Homo sapiens: one gene and its partners. Changing the gene in region 1 together with any one later gene gives a genetic interaction. Each region holds a gene or a part of one and is shown in the gene's direction. Other genes may lie near its edges.

What was found.
Region 2: changes in ALPL (region 1) and RPS6KA2 together harm fitness more than expected from each alone (negative genetic interaction), as found in Homo sapiens cells (one large-scale study listed by BioGRID).
Region 3: changes in ALPL (region 1) and MAP4K1 together harm fitness less than expected from each alone (positive genetic interaction), as found in Homo sapiens cells (one large-scale study listed by BioGRID).

What each region holds. Positions count from the first base shown.
Region 1 is NC_000001.11:21,561,423-21,565,145, forward strand, and holds part of ALPL (alkaline phosphatase, tissue-nonspecific isozyme isoform 1 preproprotein), read left to right. Parts: intron 1-1,687; coding exon 1,688-1,862; intron 1,863-2,618; coding exon 2,619-2,794; intron 2,795-3,723. UniProt on the Homo sapiens protein: Alkaline phosphatase that metabolizes various phosphate compounds and plays a key role in skeletal mineralization and adaptive thermogenesis.
Region 2 is NC_000006.12:166,501,752-166,505,251, reverse strand, and holds part of RPS6KA2 (ribosomal protein S6 kinase alpha-2), read left to right. Parts: intron 1-639; coding exon 640-746; intron 747-3,500. UniProt on the Homo sapiens protein: Serine/threonine-protein kinase that acts downstream of ERK (MAPK1/ERK2 and MAPK3/ERK1) signaling and mediates mitogenic and stress-induced activation of transcription factors, regulates translation, and mediates cellular proliferation, survival, and differentiation.
Region 3 is NC_000019.10:38,611,418-38,615,140, reverse strand, and holds part of MAP4K1 (mitogen-activated protein kinase kinase kinase kinase 1), read left to right. Parts: intron 1-695; coding exon 696-751; intron 752-848; coding exon 849-896; intron 897-1,055; coding exon 1,056-1,098; intron 1,099-1,188; coding exon 1,189-1,261; intron 1,262-2,398; coding exon 2,399-2,530; intron 2,531-3,723. UniProt on the Homo sapiens protein: Serine/threonine-protein kinase, which plays a role in the response to environmental stress. Appears to act upstream of the JUN N-terminal pathway.

The sequences.
Region 1 (3,723 bases):
TCTGTTGCCCAGGCTGCAGTGCAGTGGTGCAGTCATAGCTCACTGCAGCCTCCAACTCCTGGGCTCAAGCCATCCTCCCACGTTAGCCTCCCGAGTAGCTGGGACTACAGGTGTGTACCACCACATATGGATAATTAGAGACCCCCCCAAGGTCTCTAATTCTTGGGCTTAAGCGATCCTACAGCCTTGGCCTCCCAGTCTTGGGATTACAGGCGTGAGCCACCATGCACGGCCTATATATGCCTTTTTTTTTTTTTTTTTTTTGAGACAGTCTTACTCTGTCTTCCAGGCTGGAGTACAGTAGCATGACATCAGCTCACTGCAACCTCTGCCTCCCGAGTTCAAGTGATTCTTCTGCCTCAGCCTCCCAAGTAGCTGGGATTACAGGCATGCGCCACCATGCCCAGCTAATTTTTTTATTTTTAGTAGAGACAAGGTTTCACCCTGTTGGCCAGGCTGGTCTCGAACTCCTGACCCCAGGTGATCTGCCCACCTTGGCCTCCCAAAGTGCTAGGATTACAGGCATGAGCCACCGTGCCTGGCCTGTATACACTTTTGCATGAAGTTCCAGTTCATTCATTCTTTCCCGAGGCAGTTCGTGAAGTTAATTAGACTATAGGCATACCTCAGCTATACTTCGGGTTTGGTTCCAGGCCACTGTAATAAAGCAAATATTGCAATGAAGCAAGTCACACATTTTTTGGTTTCCCAGTGCATATAAAAGTTATGTTTGCACCCTACAGTAGTCTTTTAAGTGTGGGATAGCATTATGTCTAAAAAAATGTATATACCTTAATTTAAAAATATGCTATTGCTAAAAAACGCTAATGAAGTGAGCTCATGTTTTTGGAAAAAATGATGCTGATAGACTTGCTTGACACAGGGTTGCCACAGATCTTCAATTTGTAACAAACACAGTGTCTGTGGAGTACACTAAAATGAGGTGTGCCTGTACTGACCTAGGTTGTTCAAGGCAGTGTGCACTGCCGGGTAGCTATTGCTATTGGTGGTGGTGATAGTGGTGTTATGTAATAACCTCCAGACCCTGGGTCAGGCCCCAGGCTCACTTCTGGGGGAGTAGTGGGGACTATGGTGCCTTCTGTGCCTTCAAGGTGCTCTCAGGCTGGTGGGGAAGGGAGACAGGCAAATAGTTTTGGGGTCTCTGCTAAACATCCGGATGTAGGGCAACCCTGTGATGGTGGCCGCAGGGCAGGTGGCAGAGAAGTCAGCGCTGGTCTTGGCCCCACCCTTCCCTTCCCCAGTCCCCTTCCCCCTCACTTTCACTACCCTATCCCCAGACCCCCCACTCCTTCAAGAAGGCCCCTCCCTCTCCCTTCTCCAGGACTCCCCTGCTCCCCAACCCCTTGCTGGCTCCTGCAGCCCCAGGCCCGGAGAGAGGCCTCCGCTGACCCCACCTGAGCCCCAATCTTCCGCCGGACACTTCTCTGTACTTTGGAGAGCTAAGGTCCTGCCCCAGTGCTGCCAGGGTGCAGGGAATGATGGCAGGAAGCAGGCAGCTAGGTAGTCCTGTGGCTCTGGGGGGCTTCAGTGGGCAGTGGGCCTGGTCAAGGCTATGGGGTCCTCTCTGGTCCCTCACGCCCCAGTCCCCATGGTGTGAGTGTAGGCGGGGTGGGTGCCACTGGGGCGAAGGCCTGGCCATCTCCTGACCCTCCTCTCCCACCTGCAGACGTACAACACCAATGCCCAGGTCCCTGACAGTGCCGGCACCGCCACCGCCTACCTGTGTGGGGTGAAGGCCAATGAGGGCACCGTGGGGGTAAGCGCAGCCACTGAGCGTTCCCGGTGCAACACCACCCAGGGGAACGAGGTCACCTCCATCCTGCGCTGGGCCAAGGACGCTGGTGAGTCGGGGGAGCAGTGGGGAGCAGGGCCAGCTTCGTGGCCTGTCCAGGCCTCAGTCTTTCTGACTGTGTCATGGGAAGGGGCTAGAAAAGGCTTCTCTGTGGGGCTCCCAGCTCTGATATGCTGGGAGTCTGTAATATCCATGGGATTCCTTCCGTGACAGGGGAAGCTGAGGGTTTGGGGTTCACTCAGTGGTGGGTTCTGGTCCCAGTTCATTTCTCTGAGTCGATTCTTCATTTGACTATAAAACGGGTGGGAACGTAGCCCCCTCATAGGGTTGGTGTGAGGAGGGAGAAGTCAGCCCAGGGCTAGCCTGTGGGGTGCAGTCCATGGCCACGCCCCTTCCCTCCTCAGAATTGGGAGGCCCAGCCTGTGCCCCCAGAAGCTTTAGTCAGGGGCCAAGGCCAAAACACAGGTGACAAGGCCAACATACAGGTGACAGAGCCACAGTCCACTTGAGATCCCTCAGGGGTCCTGTGGGCGCCTTGATGAAGGGGAGGACTCCAGCCCAGGTGCTCACATCTCAAGGGCCTTCGGGGTGAGGGGAGAGGGTTCCAGAGGCAGTGTTCTGGCTGCTCGGCTACTTGGAAGCCACTGCCAGACACCTGCTGCTGTGGATGGGGAGACTGAGACCCGGGCAATCCTCAGAACTGAAGCGGGGGCCTGTCTTTAGCGGGGAGGGGGAAGGGAGGGAGGAGGCCTCTGGGACACCCCGATCTGTGGATAAAGCCAAACCCGCCCCTCCTGCACCCCAGGGAAATCTGTGGGCATTGTGACCACCACGAGAGTGAACCATGCCACCCCCAGCGCCGCCTACGCCCACTCGGCTGACCGGGACTGGTACTCAGACAACGAGATGCCCCCTGAGGCCTTGAGCCAGGGCTGTAAGGACATCGCCTACCAGCTCATGCATAACATCAGGGACATTGACGTGAGTGCTCGGGGGCAGCCGGGCAGGGACGGGGTGAGGCGGGGCCTCTGGTGGGCAGGAGGCCTCAGGCCCAGGCTGGCCCGGAGAAAGCAGCCTGGCCTGGCTCCCCACACACCTGGGAGGCTCCCAGCCCATTAGGGGATTTGCGGTTGGGCAGGCAGGCACTGTGGGATTTCTCTGCGGTGGGGCTGCGGGGTGAACCCTCATGTGACCGCCACCACACCCCAAGAACCAGGCATCCAGGGATGATTCCATAAATTGAAACCTGGTGCTGTGCCCTCCTCTGCCCCCCACTACACGGGAGGTGGTGATGGCCAAGTGTCGTCTGCCTGCCCTGCGTATTCACATGGTCACAGATGGGTACATATCTGTACACTCAACCACCAGCATGCCCGGCAAAGAGCTGGTGTGTACAGTGGTTGGCTAGTGCCAGCTCTCGTGTTTAAACTTCCGAGTTCCAGACCTTGCCCTGCGTGTTGCTAGCTGTGTGACCTTGGGTCAGTTACTTAACCTCTCTGAGGCTTCCCTTTCACAACTCCTTTGTGAACTGTACCTGCCTCATAAGCTTATGCCAAGAACTGATTAAGATAATCCCTGTGGAGCTCAGCACAGGACCCGAGGCCTAGCGAGTGCCCAGAAGGTGGTGGCACTTACGCAGGAGCCACATGTCCTTGCCCTGAAACACACTTCAACAAACTGAGCTGACTCATGGAGACAGAAGTCATCCATGTGACGCTTACTCTCTGTTCTTAAGTGAGAATGCCCGGCTCGTTCCTTTTCAGGCTTTTATTGCCTACTGTGGGGGACTGCTGAGGCGATCTGGGGACTTCTGCCCCTTGAGCCTGGAATGGGGATTCGGTGAGGGGCAGAGAAAGCCCCCCTGCCCAGCTACACCTCACCTCTTTCTCTCCACCACCAGACAAACTCAC
Region 2 (3,500 bases), on another chromosome or scaffold:
TGGGATCCCGGAATGTGGCTGCCAACCCCAACACCTGGAAACCCCTCCCCATCCCGCCCCCTCAGCTTGGGGCACCCATAGCCAACTCTGTACCACCTGTGGGTGATCTTTGGTAGAACTAATCCCACTTTGGGTTGACAGCAGGTTACGTAGGCTACTAGTTTGCATCAACCCAAGGAGTGGAGATAGATAATCCATGGGGAAAGAATGATATTTGAGCCCCATTTTCAGTCACCTCATCAAGCCCTCAGCGTCTTACTTGTATTACATTTGTTATGAATTCACATGAGCAGCACTCATGCTAGAATGTAAACCCAGAAACCTACTCCAGAGCCAAATGATTTGCAGGGGTGAGAAGGACACAGAGAGGAGAGGCTGAATCTCAGCACCCCACTCTCAAGGCGGCATGAGTCACCTGTGCAGGAAGCCCTCGTCTCCATCCACTGATCTTGGAACTGCAGAGGGAACTCACTTTTCCATGAGAAGAGTCAGAAGACCACTCTGGGGGGCCATAGCGTTCCACAGAGCAAACTGACCCCAGTGTGGACTCTCAGTCTCTCTGGCAGAGTTCTTTAAAACACACCAGCCATAAAACAAGTTAAACGTTTTTTGTTTTTGTTTTTGTTTTTTTCTTACTAGGTCATGTTCACGGAGGAGGATGTCAAGTTCTACCTGGCTGAGCTGGCCTTGGCTTTAGACCATCTCCACAGCCTGGGGATCATCTACAGAGATCTGAAGCCTGAGAAGTAAGTGAGAAAAAACTAGGGCTGACTTCCCCACGCCCATCAGCTCCATGTATTTTCCTGGCCCATGTTGGTAGCCACTGCTAGATATTTATTTCCTAAATGAGGACATATCAGAGAGCAGGCTGGGGAGACTCTTGTGCCGGCAGGACCGGCTCAGGCATCAGGTGCCCAGATGCAGGTGTGGCCTTGCTGATTTGCATAGGAAATGCCCAGGCCCATTCTCACCTGACACTCATAACGCCTGAGGGAGGCCAGGCTCAGGTGCATGTCTGTGATGCACGGGAAGCCGGAGCTGGGGAGGGGCACGCCCACGACCCTGACCCACATTCCCGCCCTCTCTCCTGGGTGAGGCTCATCTGGCCACTGGGGACCATCTCAAACATGGCTGCCTCCAGGGCAGTTTCTCCTCCTCTCTCATCTCTTCCCTACTGTCCTCCAGATTCAGGAAGCCCTTTCATCTACTTCAGCAAGTCCCAGGAATGTGGTCAATGAACCTCTACTCAGTTACTTGTCAGCCCCACCTCTAGGTCCCCAGTCAGAACAGCTCTCCCAAGAACTTACCTAAAAGACAACGGCCCCAGAATTCTCAGACCCAGAGTCCACTGAGATTTGTATATCCTTGGCAGTGGTGACCTGTGAGGCTATTATTTCTACGATATTTTGCTAATCTATTCTAGATTTTTGAACAGTAAAGTCCCTCCAAAATAATAGTGTTCCCATTTTCATTTTGTTGTTGTTGTTTTTACATATTCTTTGTAGACCTGACACATAACTAGGAGTGATCCACTTAGAAAAGAAGAGATTTGGAGGATGGTATTTTAGGTTGAGTTGACCTCAGCAGTATCCCTGAGGTGATCACTCACTCTTCCCTGCCCTGAGGGGCCGATTAATGCCACCCACCCAGACCAGGGCCCATAGCCGCCCCTAGATGAGGCATCACCTGTGGCCTGGTGGGACCGACCGGCCTTGGGTACCACCAGAGAGCCCCGTGCCTGTGAGCTAAGACCAAGGGGGGGCCCTGGGGTCTGCAAACGCGTCCCAGTTGCTACTCCACATTCCTGCCCTGTCACCTGCATGGAACTGAGAAAAGACAAGCCCTGCTCCGAAGCTGGTGTTGTTAGATGCAGCTGTCATCTATGGGAAACAGCTGGGTTTACCCAGAAACCAGGTCACATCCCATATCCACTGCAGGATGCAAAATGCATTTGCCCATGTGCTTGATGATCTGACTTCACCACCAGTCCGTGGAACGCCACAGGCACACATGTGAGTTGAATACGTGTGTAAATACAGCTGGAGCATCCCTCATCCGAATCTGAAATGCTCCAAAATCCAAAACTTTTTGAGCCCCAATGGGACACCCCCCAGTGGAAAATTCCACACATAAGCACTTAACACAAACGTGGTTTCATACACAAAATTATTTAAAATATTCTATAAATTAGCTCCAGGTGATGTGTAGAAGGTATATATGAAACATAAATGAATTTTGTTTCATTTCAGACTTGTGGCCCATCTCCAAGATATCTCATTATATATAAGTAAATATTGCAAAATCCCCAAATCCTAAACACTTCCGGTTTCAGGCATTTCAGATAAGGGATGCTCAACGTAGAATCAAAAAAGACTTTATCCAGAGTAATCCCATGAAGAGAGCAGCCTCCGCAGCTGCTGTCTCCCCACAAGAGCAGCAGCACAAGGCCAGATTTCCATTTCAAAGTGGGTCTGACCTAGAACCCCGTGGTGCTCTGAGCCCTGGGAGTCCCCTTTCGCCTCTCCTTAATTGGGAGGTGATTGCAGAGCCTGGCCTGTCACCTTGGGTCGTTGCCAAGGTCATCCCAGAAGTTAACCTGGTATTAATTACCCTCCAAGTCGGAGTGCCGTGTTGTGAGTCTGTGTGGACGTTGCCACTCCTCCTCCTCGTGCGGCCCTGGCTGTTGACGCCTGTGTGTTAGACACACTCCCCGTGCATCCACTCAGGCCGGGAGTGCCGGTTCTCATTGCTCCTGAAGGTCAGCGTGATCCTTACAGCTAAAAATAGCCTTATTTAATTGCAAGCTTGAAGGAAAAGGTTGTGTTGTTCAACTAGAATTATTAGAGAATTAATCTTGAAAGGTGCTTAATTCTGGGCAAAGATTGAATATGCCCAAAAGGCAAAGATGAAAAGATTTGCCTTGTTCATTATAAATTGTCATCTTAATTACATGCTGTAACTTTTCCTTCCCATTTCCAGAAAATAGTGGTTATTTTTTTAACTCTGTGGCAGATTTTTTTTAATTGTAGAAAAATACACATGACTTTTACAGTTTTCACCACGTTTAAGTGCCCAGTTCAGTGGCATTAAGCACGTTCCCATTGCTGGGCCCCCATCCCCACCGTCCATCTCCAGAACTGTTTCATCTTGCAGAACTAAAGCTCTGTCCCCCTGCACAGTAGCTCCCCAGCCCCCGGCACCCGCCATCCACTTTCCATCTCTGTGACTCTGGCCCCTCTAGGGACCATACATTTTATATTTGTAAAATCATATAATACCTGTCGTTTGGGGACGGGCTTATTTAATCGAGCATAATGTCCTCCGGGCTCCTCTGTGCTGTAGCAAGTCAGGCTTTCCTTCCTTTCACAGGTTTCTATAAAGGTATCACAGATTAATCCTCCAAGCCTTGCCTTTGTTTCTTTCCAGCCCACTTCCTGGTCTCTTTAGGGCTAGGCTGGTACCTCCCAGCATCTGGAAGAACAGGATTTAATTACAGCCAA
Region 3 (3,723 bases), on another chromosome or scaffold:
GGGAGCCCTCATGTCTTCACCCACTGTCACCTTCAGAGAGCAGCCCTGACTGACCACCTCTGTGAAATGTCATAGCTCCTCCTACGCGCACCTTTCTTGCTTTATGTTTCTTCTTGCTGTCTATCAGCGTCTGAGGAACTATATCATATTCTACTTATTTATCTTGCTTACTTTCTTTCTTTCCTTCTTTCCTTTTTTTTTTTTTTTTTTTTTTTTTTTGAGACAGAGCCTCCTTCTATTGCCCAGGCTGGAGTGCAGTGGTACGATCTCGGCTCATTGCAACCTCCACCTCCTGGGTTCAAACGATTCTCCTGCCTCAGCCTCCTGAGTACTTGGGATTACAGGCATGCACCACTATGCCTGGCTAATTTTTGTATTTTTTAGTAGAGATGGGGTTTCACCATGTTGGCCAGGCTGGTCTCGGACTCCTGACCTCAAGTGATCCACCCACCTTGGCCTCCCAAAGTGCTGGGATTATAGGCATGAGCCACTGCGCCAGGCCTATTGGCCTCTTTTATTTGCATTGCTGCCTCTTTCTGTCACTGACCACCCCACCATCTCCCCCTCCCACTGGTCCTATCCTATTTCCCCTCTCCCTATGGCACCCTCTTAGCTGGTGTGGGGGGGCAGGACTCCCCAGCCCAGGTTCCCTGGCTCCCATCCAATGCCTGGCCTGGCCGGGGTGACCTTTGCAGTGACAGGCTCCCTGTCAGAGCTCCAGATTAGCTATGTCTGCCGGGAAGTGCTCCAGGTAAGGAGAGGCCTGGGGATTCTGGGGATGGGAGGGGAGGGTGGCCCCACTCCAGCCCCCAAACACTCACTGTCCCCTTGTCCACCCTTCTCCCCAGGGACTGGCCTATTTGCACTCACAGAAGAAGATACACAGGGACATCAAGGTGGTCTGGGGGTGTAGGGGTGCTGTTGGGGGGTGGGGCCCAGGAGATGGGAGTGGCATTTCAGGGGCTCAGGGATCAGGGTAGTTTGAGCTGGCGGAGTGGGCTAGCACTGGGCTGGGGAGAGTCTCTGCAGCCTCCCATATCCCCTCTCATTCCCAGGGAGCTAACATCCTCATCAATGATGCTGGGGAGGTCAGATTGGGTGAGTAAGGCTGGGGGTTGAGCAGGGGGGCTGACTGGGGGGCCGGAAGCGCAGTGGACCCCAGATCACTATGTCTCCCTCTGCTTCCAGCTGACTTTGGCATCTCGGCCCAGATTGGGGCTACACTGGCCAGACGCCTCTCTTTCATTGGGACACCCTACTGGTGAGTGGCGCCCAGCGGGCAGCTAGGGGTGGAGTGGGGGTCAGTGGTTTTTCCTACCCTGGTTCCCCGGGATCCTCTTTCCTGGCTCCGTTCCCCTGCCTCGTCCTTTCTCCTTGGAAGATTCTTTCATTCTCTCTGGGTGTCGCTTGAGTTTTCCATTTTCCTCTCTCTTTGTGCCCTTTTCTGGCCATTGCTCTCGGTGTTTGTGTTGATTTTTATCTTGATTTCTCTGTCCCTCCATATCCATTTCTGTCTTTTTCCTCTAGCTCAGTTTGCAGTGCTCTCTGTCTCTTTGTTTCTGTCTCTCTCACTCTCTGTCTCTGCCTCTCTGTCTTTTCATTTTGTTTTGTTTTTAGAGACAGGGTCTCACTCTGTGGCCCAGGCTGGATTGCAGTGGCATAGTCACGGCTCACTGCAGCCTAGAACTCCTGGGCTCAGGAGATCCTCCCACCTCAGCCTCCCAAGTAGCTGGGACCACAGGTGTGCACCATGACACCTGGCTAATTTTTAAAATTTGTGTAGAGATGGTGTTGTTTTTTTTTTTTTTTCTTTTTCGTTCTTTTTTTTTTTCTTGAGACGGAGTTTTGCTCTGTTGCCCAGGCTGGAGTGCAGTGGCATGGTCTCAGCTCACTGCAACCTTCACCTCCCAGGTTCAAGCAATTCTCCTGCCTCAGCCACCAAGTAGCTGGGATTACAGACGCCTGCCACCACGCCCGGCTAATTTTTGTACTTTTAGTAGAGACGGGCTTTCACCATGTTGGTCAGGCTGGTCTCGAACTCCTCACCTCAGGTGATCTGTCCGCCTTGACCTCCCAAAGTGCTGGAATTACAGGCAAAAGCCACCGTGCCCAGCCGAGATAGGGTCTTGATAAGTTGCCCAGGCTGGTCTCAAACTCCTGGGCCTAAGCCATTCTCCTTGCTCAGCCTCCCAAAGTGCTGGGATTACAGGCGTGAGCCATCGCGCCCCGTCTGCATCTCTGTCTTCATCTGCCTGTGTCTGTCTTTACTCCTGTCCCTCTGTCTCTCCATCTGACTCTCTGTGTGCTGCGTCTCCCCTCAACTCCTTCTCCTTCTCTGCCCCTCCTTCCCTTCCTGTCCCCATGCCACCTCTGGCTCTCTGAGCGTGTCTGCCCCCAGGATGGCTCCGGAAGTGGCAGCTGTGGCCCTGAAGGGAGGATACAATGAGCTGTGTGACATCTGGTCCCTGGGCATCACGGCCATCGAACTGGCCGAGCTACAGCCACCGCTCTTTGATGTGCACCCTCTCAGGTAGGCAGGCGTGGGGTCCCCAGGCCCAGAGATCCTGTCTAGCCCTGGCCCAAAGCCCACCCTCAGCTTCCGCCTTCCATCCCAGGAACCTCCAATTCAGGGATCACCACTTGAGCCTACCTTTGCACGTGCTGCAGCTCTATTTTTTAAATTTAATTTAATATTTTATTTTATTTTATTTTTTATTTTTTAAGACAGAGTCTTGCTCTGTTGCCCAGGCTGGAGTGCAGTGGCACAATCTTGGCTCACTGCAACCTCCATCTCCTGGGTTCAAGCTATTTTCCTGCCTCAGCCTCCCGAGTAGCTGAGGCTGCAGGTGTGCACCACCACGCCCGGCTAATTTTTGTATTTTTAGTAGAGACGGGGTTTCAACATGTTGGCCAGGGTAGTCTCGAACTCCTGACCTCAGGTTATCTGCCCATCTTGGCTTCCGGAGGTGCTGGGATTACAGGCGTGAACCACTGCACCCAGCCTATTTATTTATTTTTATTTTTATTTATTTATTTATTTTTGAGATGGAGTCCCACTCTTGTTGCCCAGGCTGGAGTGCAGTGGCAAGATCTCAGCTCACTGCAACCTCTGCCTCCAGGGTTCAAGTGATTCTACCACCTCAACCTCCCAAGTGTGGGATTACAGGTGCACGCCACCATGCCTGGCTAATTTTTGTATGTTTTGGTAGAGACGGGGTTTCACTATGTTGACCAGGCTGGTCTTGAACTCCTGACCTCAAGTGATCCACTTGCCTTGGCCTCCCAAAATGCTGGGATTAAAGGTGTGAGCCACCACGCCCAGACATTTTTTAAATTAATTAATTAATTCTTATTATTTTTAGAGACAGGATCTGGCTCTGTCACCCAGGCTGGAGTGCAGCGGCACGATCGTAGTTCACTTCAGCCTTGAATGCCGGGGCTCAAATGATCCTCCTGCCTTAGCCTCTCACATAGCTGGTCCTACAGACCCATATTGCCACACCCAGCTATTTAAAAAAAAAATTTTTTTTTTGTCTCACTATGTTGCCCCAGCTGGTCTCCAACTCCTGGGCTCAAGCTATCCTCCCGCCTTGGCCTCCCAAAGTGTTGGGATTACGGGCGTGAACCACCACACCTGGCCTTGCCATAGCTCTATCACTTCATAAATGGCTTCCCTTAGGAGAGGCACCCTGGTGCACTGTAAAACCTGAACCTCACTTCCAT